Linked DNA regions of Homo sapiens. The protein of the gene in region 1 interacts with the protein of each later gene in a pairwise test. Each region holds a gene or a part of one and is shown on either strand. Other genes may lie near its edges. The genes, in order: IQGAP3 and CCDC198.

Region 1 (3,500 bases):
ACAAAAATTCGCCGGGTGTTGTGGCGCACTCCTGCAGTCCCAGCTACTCGGGAGGCTGAGGCAAGAGAATCACTTGAACCTGGGAGGTTGCGGTGAGCCGAGATTGCACCACTGCACTCCAGCTCTAGGCAACAGAGTGAGACTCTGTCCCCCCGCAAAAAAAAAAAAAAAAATTTGCTGGGAGTTAGGATATGGACTCCTATTGATAGGGGTATAGAAGAATATTTCTATTTACAGATGAATAGGCAAATGAGATAGTGGGAGAGATAGGTTGCCCTTATAGCCTGGGGTCATTACTCAGGTCCCTAGGTGCTAGGGAAACCTAGCCACAGAGGCGAGCAGGCAATCCTGGTGGCTGCTCTGGATGGCACAGGAGGCTTTAGGTGAGGGAACTATAAGGCTCTGGCCCAGCCTCTCCATTATTCCAAACTCCCAAAGACTATTTGCAGCGCAGCCGCCTGCTTGTCATCTGTTCCCCTTAGAAGGGTCCCTAGATTCCACGTTCTCTGTTCCTTCCTACATTCTTCCAGCTTCCCTGTAGATACTCCAACTCTTCTTTACCTCCCGACTGCATTTCTCCAGTCCTTTCTCTCATTCTGGCCCTTTCTCCTTTAGCATGCTGAGCTGTCCTTAGCACATCTGTATGAGATCTTGTTGTTAGACAAGCGTTTAAGGAATAGGGCCTTGGGGAAGGAGGCCATTGGAGGGGGCTCCTGCTTACACCTTGTCTCTCTCTGCTCATAGCCATCTCCCATATGATGTCACCCCGGAGCAGGCCTTGAGCCACCCCGAGGTCCAGAGACGACTGGACATCGCCCTACGCAACCTCCTCGCCATGACTGATAAGTTCCTTTTAGCCATCACCTCATCTGTGGACCAAATTCCGTATGTGCAACAGCCCCACCCCAGCCTACGCATGGGATTTCAAGAGGGCCAGGCCACCATGGGGAGCAGAGCAGGGTGATAGTCCTGCAGGGAGGAAGGCAGGGAGGGAGATGGAGCCAGGGGTACTCAGAGGGGTTCCTGAAGAGATGTGGGGAATGCTCGAAGCTCCTGCTAGAGAGCTGAGCTGAGAGACGGCGTGCAAGTCTGTGTGTGGCCTGGTAGGATGTCAGTGGAACCAGAGGAGGGACCCTAAAATGATCTCAGGGACACTTTATTAGCTAAGAGCAAATGAGGAGAAAATGGGACTCTTCAGTTCCCAATATCAAAAATAAATATTTTAAGCCCATAAAGTACTTTATAGTTCTCTCTTTTCTTAAAATTTAGTCAATACGTTTGGTTTTCTACATTTATTTTTGACACATGATAATTGTACATATTCATAGGGTATAGTGTGATGTTTTGATACGTGTATACATTGTGCAATGAATGATCAAATCAGGGTAATTAGCATATCTATTACCTCAAACATTTATTTCTTTTTGGTGAGAACATTCAAAATCCTTCTAGCTATTTTGAGATATACAACACATTATTATCAACTATAGTCACCTTCTGTGCAATAGAGCACCAGAACTTATTCTTTCTACCTGGATGTAACTTTGTACCCATTGACCAACCTCTCCCCATCCTCTCTCCCCTTCTCCTACCCTCCCCAGACTCCGGTAACCACCATTCTACTCTCTACTCCTGTGAAATCACCTTTTTAAGATTCCACATATGAGTGAGATTATGCAGTATTTGTCCTTCTGTGTTTGGCTTATGTATGTCACTTAACACGAACCTCTACGTTCATCTATGTTGTCGAAAATGACAGGCTTTCATTCTTTTTTTGTTTGTTTTTCTTTATTTTTTATTATTATTATTTTTAAGACAGGGTCTCACTCCATTGCCCAGGCTGGAATGCCCAGGGCAAGATGAGGATGTTGAAAGGGGGAACCCACAGAGTTTATAACCCTGCTCCCCAAACCTGGAGAACCGGATTAAGAGTTTACAATTAGGAGTAAGAAAAGATTGTTCTAGGCTTAAGAAAGTAAAGTACACAATGAGCTGTAAACTTCTGTCTCTGGTACCCTAGGAGTGGAAATTGCTTTTAAATGAATTTAATTACATTTGTAGGTGGCACATCCATAATAGGAATAATAATGATAATACAGTCTAGCACATTTGAATAGTACTCTACCATTATACGTTACTCTCGCAGACATAATTTCACTTGATCCTCAAAAAGCCCTGTGAGAAGAGAAGGCAAGAATGATCATTCCCATTTTCTAGACCAGGGGACAGACTTACAAAGGAGAAGGAAATAGTCTAAGATAATATCTCTGGTTGGTGGTGGAGTCCAAACTGGAGCTTCTCCTCCCGGCTCACTGATCTCCTTGGGGCCCTACCTCTAGCCCAGACTAGGCCACTCACAGATGCTCTGTGACAGCTGACAAGGTTGACTACCTCGGAGCCACCTAGGCTGTCCTAGGACAGGGTTTTGGCTGTGAGTGTCAGATACCCAAGCTTTAGGTTAATGGTGCCTCTGGGGGATGGGGGATGGCTATGGTGAGCTGGGGTGCTCTGCAGGGGACCCAGAGAGTCTCAAAGAAGAGGTTCTCGAGCCAGGTTGGAGGCTGTGTGAGAGATTTAGTAGATGATAGGGCCCTGGTCCTGACTACTGACATAAGGCAGGAGGAAGGGACAAGGCCCAGAGACGTTTGGAGGAAGGCAGCAGGGAGCTGGCTATGGCTAGTGGAGGGACAGTGCTTGAGCTCTACTCTGGAGTGGCTGAGCCTGGGGGAGAAGAGACAGCCAGGCACTCAAGCTCTTATCTCTGGCAGAGAGAGATGGGCAGAGGCACAGCCACGCGCACCTGTTTCTTTGTCCCCAGGTATGGGATGCGATATGTGGCCAAAGTCCTGAAGGCAACTCTGGCAGAGAAATTCCCTGACGCCACAGACAGCGAGGTCTATAAGGCAAGTGTTGTCTCCCCACCCCCACCTCCCAATCCCTCCTTTGCTTTGCTGGTACCTGCAATCCCCAGACTGAGACAAAAACACAAAAAATCCTATGCCATAAAAATCCAAGGAGGGAAATATGCTGCCCCCTATAAATGGAGCCTGGCTCACCCGCAGGGCTTCAGGTGGCAGATGGCTCATGCTGGGGTGTGAGCGAACAGAGTGGGCAACACTGGCTTCTTGTCAGGAGATCTGGGTTCAAGTCCCAGCTCTTGCTCAGGTTTGCTGTGTGGCCTTAAGCAAGTTGTCTGCCTGCTCTGGGCCTGTTTTCTTTGAAGTGAGGGGGTTGGCCCAGGTGTCCCTTCCAGCCAAGCAAGCTGAGAATGTGGGGCCGCACCAGTCAAGGCGGCCCCTGGACACTTCTGGGAGAGTCTCCTTTGCCCTCAGGTGGTCGGGAACCTCCTGTACTACCGCTTCCTGAACCCAGCTGTGGTGGCTCCTGACGCCTTCGACATTGTGGCCATGGCAGCTGGTGGAGCCCTGGCTGCCCCCCAGCGCCATGCCCTGGGGGCTGTGGCTCAGCTCCTACAGCACGCTGCGGCTGGCAAGGCCTTC
Region 2 (4,537 bases), on another chromosome or scaffold:
AGCCTCTTGAATTCCATGGTATCTATGTCCTTGCTACTAGCTTCTTTCGGTGGCTGGTCTTAAAAGCGAAATCATTGCTAAAGGAAATCTTAAAGTAATAGAGTATTTGCGATTGATGACATTTTTCTTTAAGAACATTCTCATTAATAGCTTGGTCCTTATCAATATCCCTCTTTGATGATTATAGTTTAAAAAGGGATGTTACCATTTTATCCAAGAAATTCCTTATGAAGCCTTTTAAATTCATCTTACTTGAAGTCTTTGGGGTGGATGCCTTTTAATAATACTTGTTTCTCTGTGTTCCAGTGGGATGTCAAAATACATGTCTCTGGATGCTTGAAGGATTGGGGAAGAAACAGGAATAAAACATTAAATATAATTTACTATTAAATCAGGCAATCATTAGTTACTAGACTTTGTCAACACAATTTTGTACCTTTTCAGTTATATATGTCTAACCTGTGGGTTGAATGTGGAGATGAAACACAGAAAGCAGGGAACCTACATTAGTGCACATGACACTATTTTAGTCTGGACCCAGGATTTAATATCTGCTCTCCTAACTTCCTACTCAGGTTCATACTTAGGGGGAGAGTTACAAAATTACCAATATGTTGACTGCAAATATTTTTCAAACAGAATTTGGCCTGGAAAATAGAAATTTATTGACTTATTTTAATTCCATAAAATCTCCTCCCTGAAATATAAGACATCAGAAAAATATATAACTTTAAAAAATGAAAACAATCTTCTTAGATGAAATAGATGATAGATAGATAGGTGATTATACAGAGATGAGAAAGAAATGGAGTACGTGTGAACACAATTCAATAGCCCCTTTAGTGAAAAAAATTTCCACAGGTTGCCACTGTAATACAGCATATCAATATTCTTTCCTGATGAAACAAGCTGGGGATACAGAGTTAAGCCTCTATTAGGAAACAGAGAGGCTCAACAGATCCATTATGGATTTTATTTTCCAGCTTGATTATCCTGAGCTCTTGGGAGTGCTACCATGACCAGCGCTGCATGAATGAAGTTCTTGTCCTTCCCTTTTAACAATCTGGACACATTCTGACTTCTAGATTGTTTCATAGACTATTTTACAGTCCCACTTTGCATTTTAAATGGAAAAATCCCTGGGTAATTATGCATCTCTCTCCTTAAGACATGTGAATAACCACTTCAAGGACTTTGTTCTCTCTAACTTTTAGTGGGATGGAAACTATGTCCTTATTTTCTTTTGAAAAGATGCCAGCATATTGAGCAGGATGGAAACAACAAACATACTGGATTTAACAATGTAAGTATTTTCAGCTATTTTTTCAGAAGGCTTACTAATCCTTATTTTTTTTATTTTAGTGACATTACTCCATTATTTAATTAGATTTTCCTCAACTGGCATAGGCTGTGTCAGGCATTTATTTTTACCCCTGATTACAAGTGAAAAAAATTGATGAAGTAACTTGCCCAAGGTCATTCGATTTGGTATTTGATGGAGCTGGGGTGAGAATATGGGAGATCATGAGGATTCTCATGATCTTGTTATTTATTTTTAAATGTGATTTTGTCACTTCAGACATAAGCTCACCATTTATTCAGTTACCTAAATCTTTTTTTTCTTTTAATTGAGACAGAGTCTCTCTCTGTCACCAAAATCTTAAAACTCTCAATGGGGGTTTGGATAAAAAGGGAATTCCTCAATAGGAGCATTGCATACTCTTAGTACACATTCACGCTCCATTTTTTAAATCATGTCTATCACCTATCCCTCTATCTATCATAAAAAAATTCCTAAGGGGAAAATTCCCATCCATGTGCTTAAGAACTTGAAGAACATAAAGAACATAAAAACAGGCCATATAGAAACAACCAAACGTTATCAATTCTGCAGACAATAGCCATGAAAAATCATTCCAGGCAAGATTTGCTAGGTACCAAAAGAGAATGTGAGGCTTTCTGAACAAGGCATCCAATAAGGGAAACTTATTTGTGTTATTGATCCAGAAGGTGAAGAAAAGGGAAAACAATATACATATATATATGTATATAATAAACATATATTTTTCTAAGTGAGAATGTCTGTTTAATTATCATTGTGGTCATCATAAAACATTTTACATGGCTTATAAAATATCCCAGGATTTATGGCCACTTCAGGCTCAGAGCTTCCAATCATAATGGGAAAGAATTCTGTTAGTTCTGCAGATGACCATGAAGAATGTGGGGTTGGGAAAAGGGTGACTCATCCACTCCTCTGTACTGCAATAAATCAATACTGTTTAGGGTGGTTTCAAAATTCATGTTAGAATTAACTCACTCTTAAAGTGTTGCTTTCAAAACCACAAAGTCTGGTGCATTAAACTATACTGGAGAGAATGATTTAAATTTAGAATCTAACTGAAACGCGATTGCTATCATTTATCACTAGTATCTATATAATTTTAATGGTCTGGCAAAACTAGGTATAAACATTGAAAGCATTACAAACTGAGCTGAAACAAAATGATTTATCCTTCTCATATGGAATAGTGAAAAGTCCTTTGTACAGTTTATACTCCCATTCTAATGAACCCAGAATACTTTCAACTGATGTTCAATCCTCATTGAAAGATTTGAGTTTTCAAAGATAGCCTAAATTCCTTTACATTTCAGGAATTTAGAAACTTTCTGAGATCATGGAGACAGTCAGATAAACCTATTAATAATGCTCCTTGGTCCAGATACACACATCTCATGCTGGGTTTTATGTTTACCTGTAGAATATCTTCCATACCAGTTTTCTTGTAAAGGTGGCAGCTGCCCTTCCAAGGCTTTATTCTGGTCCTGCAGTCTTGCCAGTGAATATGAAGTCTTTTCTTCCAAATTCTGATTGAATGCAAAGTCCACACGGCCAGCCGAGGGAGTCTCTACCTCTTTGTTTTGCAAAGGTGCTACTTTGATCACCCTAAGGTGAGTCTTAGAGTGACTCAGGCCCATTTCATGTGAAAGACATTCAGAGGAAAGCTGCGAGGGAAGTGGTTTTGGGGTCTTTAATATAGCTTATTTTAATCAAAGCATTTCAGAAGTTTACCCTCGCTTTACAAAGCAGTCATTTCCTTCATGGCATCCTTCTAGCTCTGTTTCACTGCACACTAACCCTTTTGGCCACTTCCTGGGAGGCTGGTTTCCATGGAGACTTCCCTTCAACTTTGCCGTTTCAGACCCAAAGAATCCAGTTAAACATTGACTTGGTTATGCTACTTTCTGAAATACTCAGTGATAGGAATAGAAGCCACTGTTGATCATTAAACAAATATCGAACACCAGGAAGGTTATTAACAGAGAGAGATGTAGAGCAGAGGTTTAGAGAAGTCTTAAACTTGACCCTTTCATTGCAAGTACCTTTGTAAAAAAACTAACTGCTGAGAATAGCTAAGCCATCTTTGCAATTAAGAGGATGCATGCTGATTGCCAAGGCTTTGTTAATCTTTAATTTAATTAAAGAATTTATCCCCCAAATAGGAAAGAAAGCAGCGGAGCGGCTAAAGCGTCATTTGATTTTTCTGTCGATGACTTGAGTTGCCTTTGAAGGGGGTGAATACATTGCAGGACAGGAGGATAATAGAAATTTTTTTCCTGGGGATAAGGGGAAAAAATTCTTGAATAAATGGTCTAAGTAAACCTTGAGTTTTTGAAGATAACCTATTTACTATGTTTTTAAACTAAATTAAATTAATTTATTTATTTTTGAGACAGAGTCTCACTCTGTCACCCAAGCTGGAGTCACCCAAGCCCAGCGATCTTGGCTCACCACAACCTCCGCCTCACCAGTTCAAGTGATTCTCCTGAGTCAGCCACCCAAGTAGCTGGGATTACAGGCACCTACTACCACCACACCTGTCTAATTTTTGTATTTTTTAGTACAGAAGGGGTTTCACCATGTTGGCCAGGCTGGTCTCGAACTCCTGACCTCAAGAGATCCACCTGTCTTGGCCTCCCAAAGGGCTGGGATTACACGCATGAGCCACAGTGCCTGGTCTATTATGATTTTTAAAGTAGAAAAAAAGACTGGAAGGAAATGTGCCGAAATATTGAGTAGTGATTTTTGAATGGTGGGATTATGGGTGATTTTTATTTTATTCTTTATACTTAGAAGTGGGACTAACTTTCAAGCTCTAATTGTTCATGAGCACAGATTACTTGTGTTTTCATCACATCTCCATAAAGAAATTAAAAGAAAATTTATTTTTCATCTTTGCAGAATCCATTTCCTAAGGGACTAAGGTGATGTTTGGAAAGTCTTGGTAGACAATCACGTTTATCTAAAAAGATGCCTGAATTTAGTTTTTTCCTTACTCTCTTTGCATTTTCCACATCATTTTCTCTGCAGCAGAGAGGTTTATAAGTAAAGACTAATATATTAACAGTATCTGCAAACACAACAGCCTCTGGTAAACAGACTAGCTTAATTACAAGGATAATAATACTTGAGTAAGGTCTAGTAAGATTTATTTTTTAGTACAATCAGTTTAAGTATTTCTAAGGGCAGGGGAAT

What was found.
Region 2: the proteins of IQGAP3 (region 1) and CCDC198 interact in a two-hybrid assay, tested with the Homo sapiens proteins (one large-scale study listed by BioGRID).

What each region holds. Positions count from the first base shown.
Region 1 is NC_000001.11:156,534,566-156,538,065, reverse strand, and holds part of IQGAP3 (ras GTPase-activating-like protein IQGAP3), read left to right. Parts: intron 1-744; coding exon 745-885; intron 886-2,818; coding exon 2,819-2,903; intron 2,904-3,332; coding exon 3,333-3,500.
Region 2 is NC_000014.9:57,490,737-57,495,273, forward strand, and holds the start of CCDC198 (factor associated with metabolism and energy), read right to left. Parts: upstream 3,122-4,537; 5' UTR 2,980-3,121; coding exon 2,757-2,979; intron 1,304-2,756; exon of another isoform or gene 336-1,303; coding exon 253-335; exon of another isoform or gene 248-252; coding exon of another isoform or gene 206-247; intron 1-205. UniProt on the Homo sapiens protein: May be involved in tuning the metabolism, energy expenditure, and excretion processes.